Linked DNA regions of Homo sapiens. The protein of the gene in region 2 purifies or fractionates together with the protein of the main gene of each other region. This does not show direct contact. Each region holds a gene or a part of one and is shown on either strand. Other genes may lie near its edges.

Region 1 (3,817 bases), on a different chromosome or scaffold from region 2:
ACCAAGGTTGTCATTAACCTTTCATATTATTCCTCATTATCCATGTATTCATTTGCAAATAAGCGTATATTAACAAAATCACAGGTTTATGGAGATATAATTCACATACCTTAAAATTCAGGCTTTTAAAGTGTACCTTTCATGTGGTTTTTGGTATATTCACAAAGTTATGCATTGATCACCACCATCTGATTCCATAACATGTTCAATACCTCAAAAAGAAGTCTGTACTCATTAGTAGTCATTTCACATTCACCACTCCCTCTGGCTCTGGGCAGTCACTGATCTTTGTGTCTCTATGGATTTGCCTAGTCTAGGTATTTTTATGTAAATGGCATCATACAACATGTGACCTTTTGTTTGGCTTTTTTCATTTAGCAAAATGTTATCAAGGTCTGTCCCTGTTGTAGCATGTATTAGCACTTCATTTCTTATATGCTGAATGATATACTTTATTTGTCCATCAGTTGTTCATGCTTTATTTGTCCATCAGTTGATGAACATTTGCGTTTTTGCCACTTTGGGCTATTAAGAATAATGCTACTGTGAACAAGTGTGTACAAGTTCCTCTACAAATTTTTGTGTGGACATATCCTTTCAGTTCTCTCAGGTGTATATCTGGGAATTGAATTGCTGGGTCGTGTAGTAGCTATGTTAAACACTTTGAGAAACTGCTATAATGTTCTCCAGAGCTGTACCATTTTAAATTCTGTGTATGAGGATTCCACGTTCTCCACTTCCTCACCAGTGTATGGATTTGGGGGTATACTTTTTAAAAAGTGGGATTAGGCTGGGCACAGTGGCTCACACCTGTAATCCCAACACTTCAGGAAGCTGAGGTGGGAGGATCACTTGAGCCTAGTAGTTTGAGACCAGCCTGGGCAACATAGGGAGACCCTGTCTCTACAAAAAATAATTTAAAATAAATTAGCTGGGCGTTGTGGCACACACCTGTAGTCCCAGCTACATGGGAGGCTGAGGTGGAAGGATTCCCTGAGCCCAGAAGTTTGAGGTTGCAGTGAGCCATGATGGCAGCACTATACTGTAGCCTGGGTGTCAGAGCAAGACTCCGTTTCAGGGAAGAAAAAAAAAAGTGGGATGATATTTTTGACACTTTTCTTCTTGTTTTCTTAATTTCATACTTCTGGAAATTCCATTAAATTAGCTGGTACCACTCTAACTCATTGTGTTTCATGGCTGCATAGTAATATTGCATAATATAAATATACCATTCATTCATCAAAGTTAGCAGATATTGACTGTTAGGTGCCAGGCACTGCTCTAAGCGTTAAAGAAAAACACACAAAAACTTTTGCATTCTTAGAGTTTATTTTCCAATGGAGGGGGTGGAGGGAGGTAAGAATTTAGGAAATAAATTAATTACATATATAGCATAGGGTTTCACCAGTGAGTGCAGCTTGAATCGTTGGCAGCTTTCTTAGTAGTATAAATACAGTACTAAAGATGAAATTACTCTAAATGGTGTTACTTAAATTACTGGAATAGGTATTACTATTAGTCACTTTGCAGGTGAAAGTGGAAACACCATCGTAAAATGTAAAATAGGAAACAGCTGGTTAATGTGGATCTGGAGTTTTTCTAGGACATAAACTGATGAGCCAGAAAAGTAAATGTGTCAGTCCTTGGTAGCACAGTTTGTACGTTTATAAATTTTATCCAAATCCTCTTAATCTAGTGATTAATAGACACTCTTCACAAAAGGATGAGGGAGGTATATGTATATGTGTTGAAAGGTTCCGAAGGATGCAACCGAGAGTACTTCGGGGGACGTGGCAAAACTTCCAGGCCCATTCAAGAGTCTTGTTTTCTCCCTGAGCTTTTATGTATTTATTATATTGCCCTATTAATTATTGAGATTGTGCCTTACAGTAAAAGCTGCTTTAAATTGTTGACGCTATAATTTAAAATAATCTGGGTCACCTAGAGTGGTTAAACCTGGAAGAAAAGGATATCCTTCCTGCCAGGGCAGATTGTATGTAGATATGCAACCTGGTTGCGCCTGTGCTGACCTCTACTCTGTTGGGCCTGGAAGTATGCAGTTCAACGTTTCTCTTCTGATTTTTAAAAAAAATTTGACTTTGTTTACTTTTTATTTTATTTTAATTTAGAGACAAGGTTTCACTATTTTGCACAGGCTGGTCTCAAATTCCTGGGCTCAAGTGATCCCCTTGCCTCGGCCTCCCAAATACTGGGATTACAGGCATGAGCCACTGCACCTGGCCTTAACTTTGAAATGAAGTTAGAAATGTACATTTTATTTTTTTAATTATTATTATTATTATTTATTATTTTAGAAACAGGTCTAGCTCTGTTGCCCAGGTTGTAGGGCAACAATGGTGCAATCACAGCTCACTGCAGCCTCCACCTCCTGGGCTCAAGTGATTTTCATGCCTCAGCCTTCCGAGTAGCTGGGATTACAGGCATGTGCCACCATGCCCGGCTAATTTTTTGTATTTTTAGTAGAGACCAGGTTTCACCATGTTGCTCAGGCTGGTCTTCTGACCTCAAGTGATCTGCCCGCCTCAGCCTCCCAAAGTGCTGGGATTATAGGCGTGAGACACCACGCCCAGGTGAACAGAATAGTTTTCCATTCACCACAGTTTGTGACAGTCTCTACATTGTGAAGTGACAAGTTCTCTTCTATTTTCCTTCTGCCCCTCATCACCTTTTTCTTCCTCATTTCTTTTTTGAATTTTGCTGTCTTGAATTGATGTCTAAAGGATGACATAGCAGACAAGGGGACTGACACATGAACTCTCATGAGTTACTGAGGAGTTTCTCAGTGCTCTGTCTGCATCATCTGCTCACTCTCTCCTTCCTAGGTGCTAGCCTGCCAACCTGCTTTGAGAAATTGGAAATGAATTGGGGGGTAATCAGCCTCCCCTTGTACATGTAGGGACCGCATCTCCAATGCCTTGCTTTACATAATGACGAATGGTGTTTTGCTTACCTACTTCCACACAAACTGCTGATATGGTTAGGATTTGGGAAAGGGGAAGAAGGGAATTTTGGGTTTTGAGGAGTAGCTGGGGCTTGAACAAAGAAGAGGTAGTAATGAACATTCCTGGGGTGAGGCAATTAGTTAGCTGAGGGAGAAGAAGGCATATAATAAATTAGGGATTGACAGACTGTCTGTAAAGGGCCAGACAGTAAATGTTTTAGTCATTGAAGACCTTAAGGTCTCTGTTGCATCTAATCAACTCCATCATTGTAGTGCAAAAGTAACCACAGCCACTACAGATGTGAATGAATGTGACTATGTTTCAATAACATTTTTTTTTTTTTTTTTTTTGAGACAGTGTCACTCTGTTGCTCAGGCTGGAGGGCAGCAGTATGACCACAGCTTATTACAGCCCTGACTTCCCAGGCTCAAGTGATCCTCCCACCTCAGCCTTCCAGGTAGCTGGGACTATAGGCATTTGCCACCGCCCCCCATTAGTTTTTGTATTTTTTTGTAGAGGCGGCGTTTCACCATGTTGGCCAGGCTGGTCTTGAACTCCTGAACTTCTGGGCTCACGCTCTCCACCCTACTCGGCCACCGAAAGTGTTGGGATTACAGGCATGAGCCAGTGTCCAGCCCAAAATAGTCTTTTGATTTTTTTTCCCCCAACCATTTAAAAATGCAAAACATTCTTAGTTTTTGGGCTGAAAAAAGACAAGTGATGGGTCAGATTTGGCCCCGGATTGTGGTTTGTTTACCCCTGTTACAGAGGAACAGGAAGCAGAGAGGACTGGTTATAGGGCCTGGGAAGCCAAGCCAGGGAGTTAGACTTAAGGTAGTATGTAAGAGGAAACC
Region 2 (3,817 bases):
GTGATGCACCCCAACTCCATGGGGACAGAAGCCCCTGTGCTCAGGACCCTTCTAGACCACGCCCTATGTGCCCCTTCATCTGAATGTTCATTTTTATCCTTTAAAACATCCTTCGTCATAAATCAGCAACAGCAAGTAAACTGTCTCCCTGGCTTCCATCAGCTGCTCTAGCAAATTATTTAACCCAAGGAGAGAGTCATGAGAATCTCTATCTTGTAGCCAAGTGGGACAGAAGCGTGGGTAAGCTGGGGACCTATGGACTTGCAACTGGTGTTTGAAGTCGGGGCAGGATCGTGGGACTGAGCCCTTGACCTGTGGGGTCTGCGCTAACGCCAGGTAGTGTCAGAATTGAATTGAACCGTAGGACACCCAGCTGGTGTCAGAGAATTGGTCAGTGGGGGAAAAACCCACACATCTTATCCCAGAAGTGTGGAGTGAGTAGGGAGAAAAACAGTTTGGTTTTTCCCTATAGAACCCTCATACATCAAAATGAATGAATGTAACTAGATCAATCACTCATCATAATTTCCAACAATTTGTCAGAGAACAGCCATATAATTAAGTTATCCTCTATTGATTTTTCTTTTCAAAACCAACCTGCCTTTCCCTGAGGAAGAAAGATCCATTCAGAGGCCCCACATGGCTCTCAGAAGCCGATCTGGCTTCAACCGCAAGCAAGCTCTCGCCTAGAGGACCTGTAAGGACGTTTCTCACTCAGCCCTTGCCAAGCCTGGACAGGGTGCCAGGATTTCCTCTTTCTCGCTAGGTTGCCCGGTAGGATCTCTGTCTTTTGAGCATGAGAAAGCAACAGGGCAGGCTGATGTCCCCTCCCCGTTCCCACCCATGGGCAGAAGGCAGTGCTGTTCAGTCATTGCCCAGCGTGGGCAGAAAGGGCTCTGCTGCAGGCTCCCCACCACCATGGGGCTGCTCAGAGCAGGGGCTACCATATCAGGCAGAGACCAAAGCAACAACTGAAGGTGTCTTTGTCCAAGCTGGTTGCCAGCAAGAGGTAATCAAATACTGGTTGCCAGCAAGAGGTAATCAAATATACATTTGTATCACAAAGGCCTGAATTCTGAAGGTGACACAGAAGTTCCGCTTTTGCAAGGTATTGCCCCTGGGCTTGATCCTCCAAGTTGGAGCAGAGGGCAGGACCTTTCCTTGAGAAAGGACACACCCTGAGCAGCTCCGTAAGGTCAGGTGCAGCAGGATCCCAGCTCTGCAGGAAAAATCCCCTATAGAATCACACCTTGGCACAAAACAGAAATACACACTCCCAGTTTATGTGAATAGAGCTCCAGACTTCTCTGCCCTGAGCAAATTCCTGATGTTCCTAAGATAATGCAGAAAAAAGCCAACCACTTAGAGCTCCAAGGCAAGGCAGCCTGGCTCACCTCTTTCTCAGGATATTCTGTTTTAATCTCTGCTGCCATCTCCACTCCAGCCGAGCCTCCTCCCACCACCACGATGAACCGTGAGCGCTGGACCTGGAGAAGAGGACATGTGAAACAGGGACATATGAAACACACCTACACATCCACCTCTGTCTGCTGGTTCAGCCTGTGGTGTGGCTCCCTGGGCCAAAGGAGGGCAGAGAACCCTTTCCACATTTTGAGTCCAAACGTGCTTCCTCCCACCCACCTCGCAGAATTGCTGTGGAAGATTGTGGATCTAAGCCTGCTCTACAAAACAGAGCCTTATGAAAACAGGAGTGGAAGGGACCCGTGAAAAGCCCCAGGAGAGGAAAGTCAGAGACATACCAAGGGCAACATGAGCAGGTTTAGGGTGCTCACATCCTGGCTCCAGCAGCAAGTTCAAGGTCTCTTCCCAGGAAAGTCTCTTCCTAGTGACTCTCCAACTCTATGGCTACAGCCAGCAGCTCTGAGTAACCCCGTGGCCTCCCAGCTGCAGGCCTAGGCATCCCCAAGGCTGTCCTTCCATCTGCCCACACTGCCCCATGCCTTCAGTGCACAGCTCACCTGCCTCACCATGTCCTCATAGGCCTGGATAGCGGCCTGCTGGCTGGAAACCTCATTAAACTTGCCCGGGAAGGGCCCAGTGCTGCCCGTGGCCAGGATAAGATGAGAGAAGGGCAGGGCCTGAGAGAAACCAAAAAAAAAAAAAAAAAAAAAAAAAAAAAGATGAGGGTAGGGCAGGGCAGGGCAGGCCTAGGCCTCTGCATCCTACTCCCGGCCTGCCAGCCGGGACAAACCAGGCAAAGAGGCCCCTCTAGGCACCCGAGGCAGCCCCCATGGGAGGGGGTGAAACCACCACACTGGTTAGCCCAAAGGATGGCACTAGAACCTGGGGAAAGACCTAAGGAAGTAGAGTTTACCTCCGCGTGGAGAATGTGGGGGCAACTGGAGCCACCCAGCATGGCAGTGGGAGGGGTGCCTGGAAGCAGGAGGCAGGGCTGCAGGATAGGACACTGCCCACGGGAGTTAGCTCAGAACCTCCCGGGTGTTTTAGAAGAACCCTCCTCCTGCCTCCGCCAGGAAGAAAAGAAAGGGAAAGAAAGAAAGACTGATCAGTAGTGGCATCACATCTGTGAACAGCCACTGCACTGAGCAACATACCAAGACCCCATATTAATTTAATTTTTAAATTAAAAATAAATAATAAAATAATTTAATTTTTATTAAATATTTTATTAAAAAATAATTTAATTTTTTTAAATTAAAAATAAAAAAAATTTTAGGCCGGGCACAGTGGCTCACACCTGTAATCCCAGCACTTTGGGAGACCAAGGCGGGCGGATCACCTGAGGTCAGGAGTTTGAAACCAACCTGATCAACATGGCAAAATCCCATCTCTACTAAAAATACAAAAATTAGCTGGGCGTGGTGCCATGCGCCTGTAATCCCAACTACTCAGGAGGCTGGGGCAGGAGGATCGCTTGAACCTGGGAGGCAGAGGTTGTGGTGACCCGAGACCATGCCATTGCACTCCAGCCTGGGCAACAAGAGCGAAACTCCATCTCAAAAACAATTAAAAAAATTTTTTTTTAATTAAAAAAATTGTAAACAAAGAAAAGGAAATCTTGTTTGGAGCCTAAATATATAAAGTTGACAAAAACAGAGCTGCTCCAATGGGAGGGGCTGGAGGGCCTGGACTCCACTCAGCCCCTACTTTCCCCTGAACCTCCAAGATGCCCTCATGGAATCTTCCAGGGCTCTGAAACGCATGGCTGGAGACTGCAGGACCAGGGGACACTCAGTAATCTTTCCAACCAGGAAACTATCTGGCCCCATTAATTCAAGAAGGGCTGGGTCACACGAAATCACAACTCATCAAGGAAAGGAATTGTGTTTCCTTTTGTCAACGCCCCCTTAGCTTCAAACACCAAATGGGGCTGGGCTGGACATGACACTCATCCAGAGCTGGTGGCAGCTTATCGATGGAGCTGAAGTCATGGCAGGTGTGTTCCAGGCTCCATGATGCACATGTGAGGTGGGGGAACACACAAATGAGTGAAGGGAAACCTCTGCCCCAGTGACGTCCCGATCCGGGGGATGTGGGACCATGCGTGTGCCTTTTTGTTCTAGACAGAGCCGAGGGCTGGCCAGGCCTGGGAGTTGTCTGGGACGCTGGCTTTTAGAGCATGGGCTCTGGGCTAAAATTGCATGGGTTCAAATCCTAGTTCAGTCTCTTACCAGCTGTGGGATCTTAAGCAAGCCATTTAACCCTTTAGCTTCTCTGTAAAATGAAGTTATACCACCTTCGCCATAGAGGCACGGTAAACATTCATGAGACTTACGTAAAGGCTACAAACAGGGCCTGGCATGCAGGAATTACACAAGAAATATCTGCCACCATA

The links.
Region 1: the proteins of AIFM2 (region 2) and SPECC1L purify together in Homo sapiens (affinity purification with mass spectrometry; one large-scale study listed by BioGRID and IntAct). This does not show direct contact.

Annotation. Positions count from the first base shown.
Region 1 is NC_000022.11:24,277,285-24,281,101, forward strand, and holds part of SPECC1L (cytospin-A), read left to right. Parts: intron 1-3,817. UniProt on the Homo sapiens protein: Involved in cytokinesis and spindle organization. May play a role in actin cytoskeleton organization and microtubule stabilization and hence required for proper cell adhesion and migration.
Region 2 is NC_000010.11:70,119,113-70,122,929, forward strand, and holds part of AIFM2 (ferroptosis suppressor protein 1), read right to left. Parts: intron 2,100-3,817; coding exon 1,980-2,099; intron 1,488-1,979; coding exon 1,395-1,487; intron 1-1,394. UniProt on the Homo sapiens protein: A NAD(P)H-dependent oxidoreductase that acts as a key inhibitor of ferroptosis.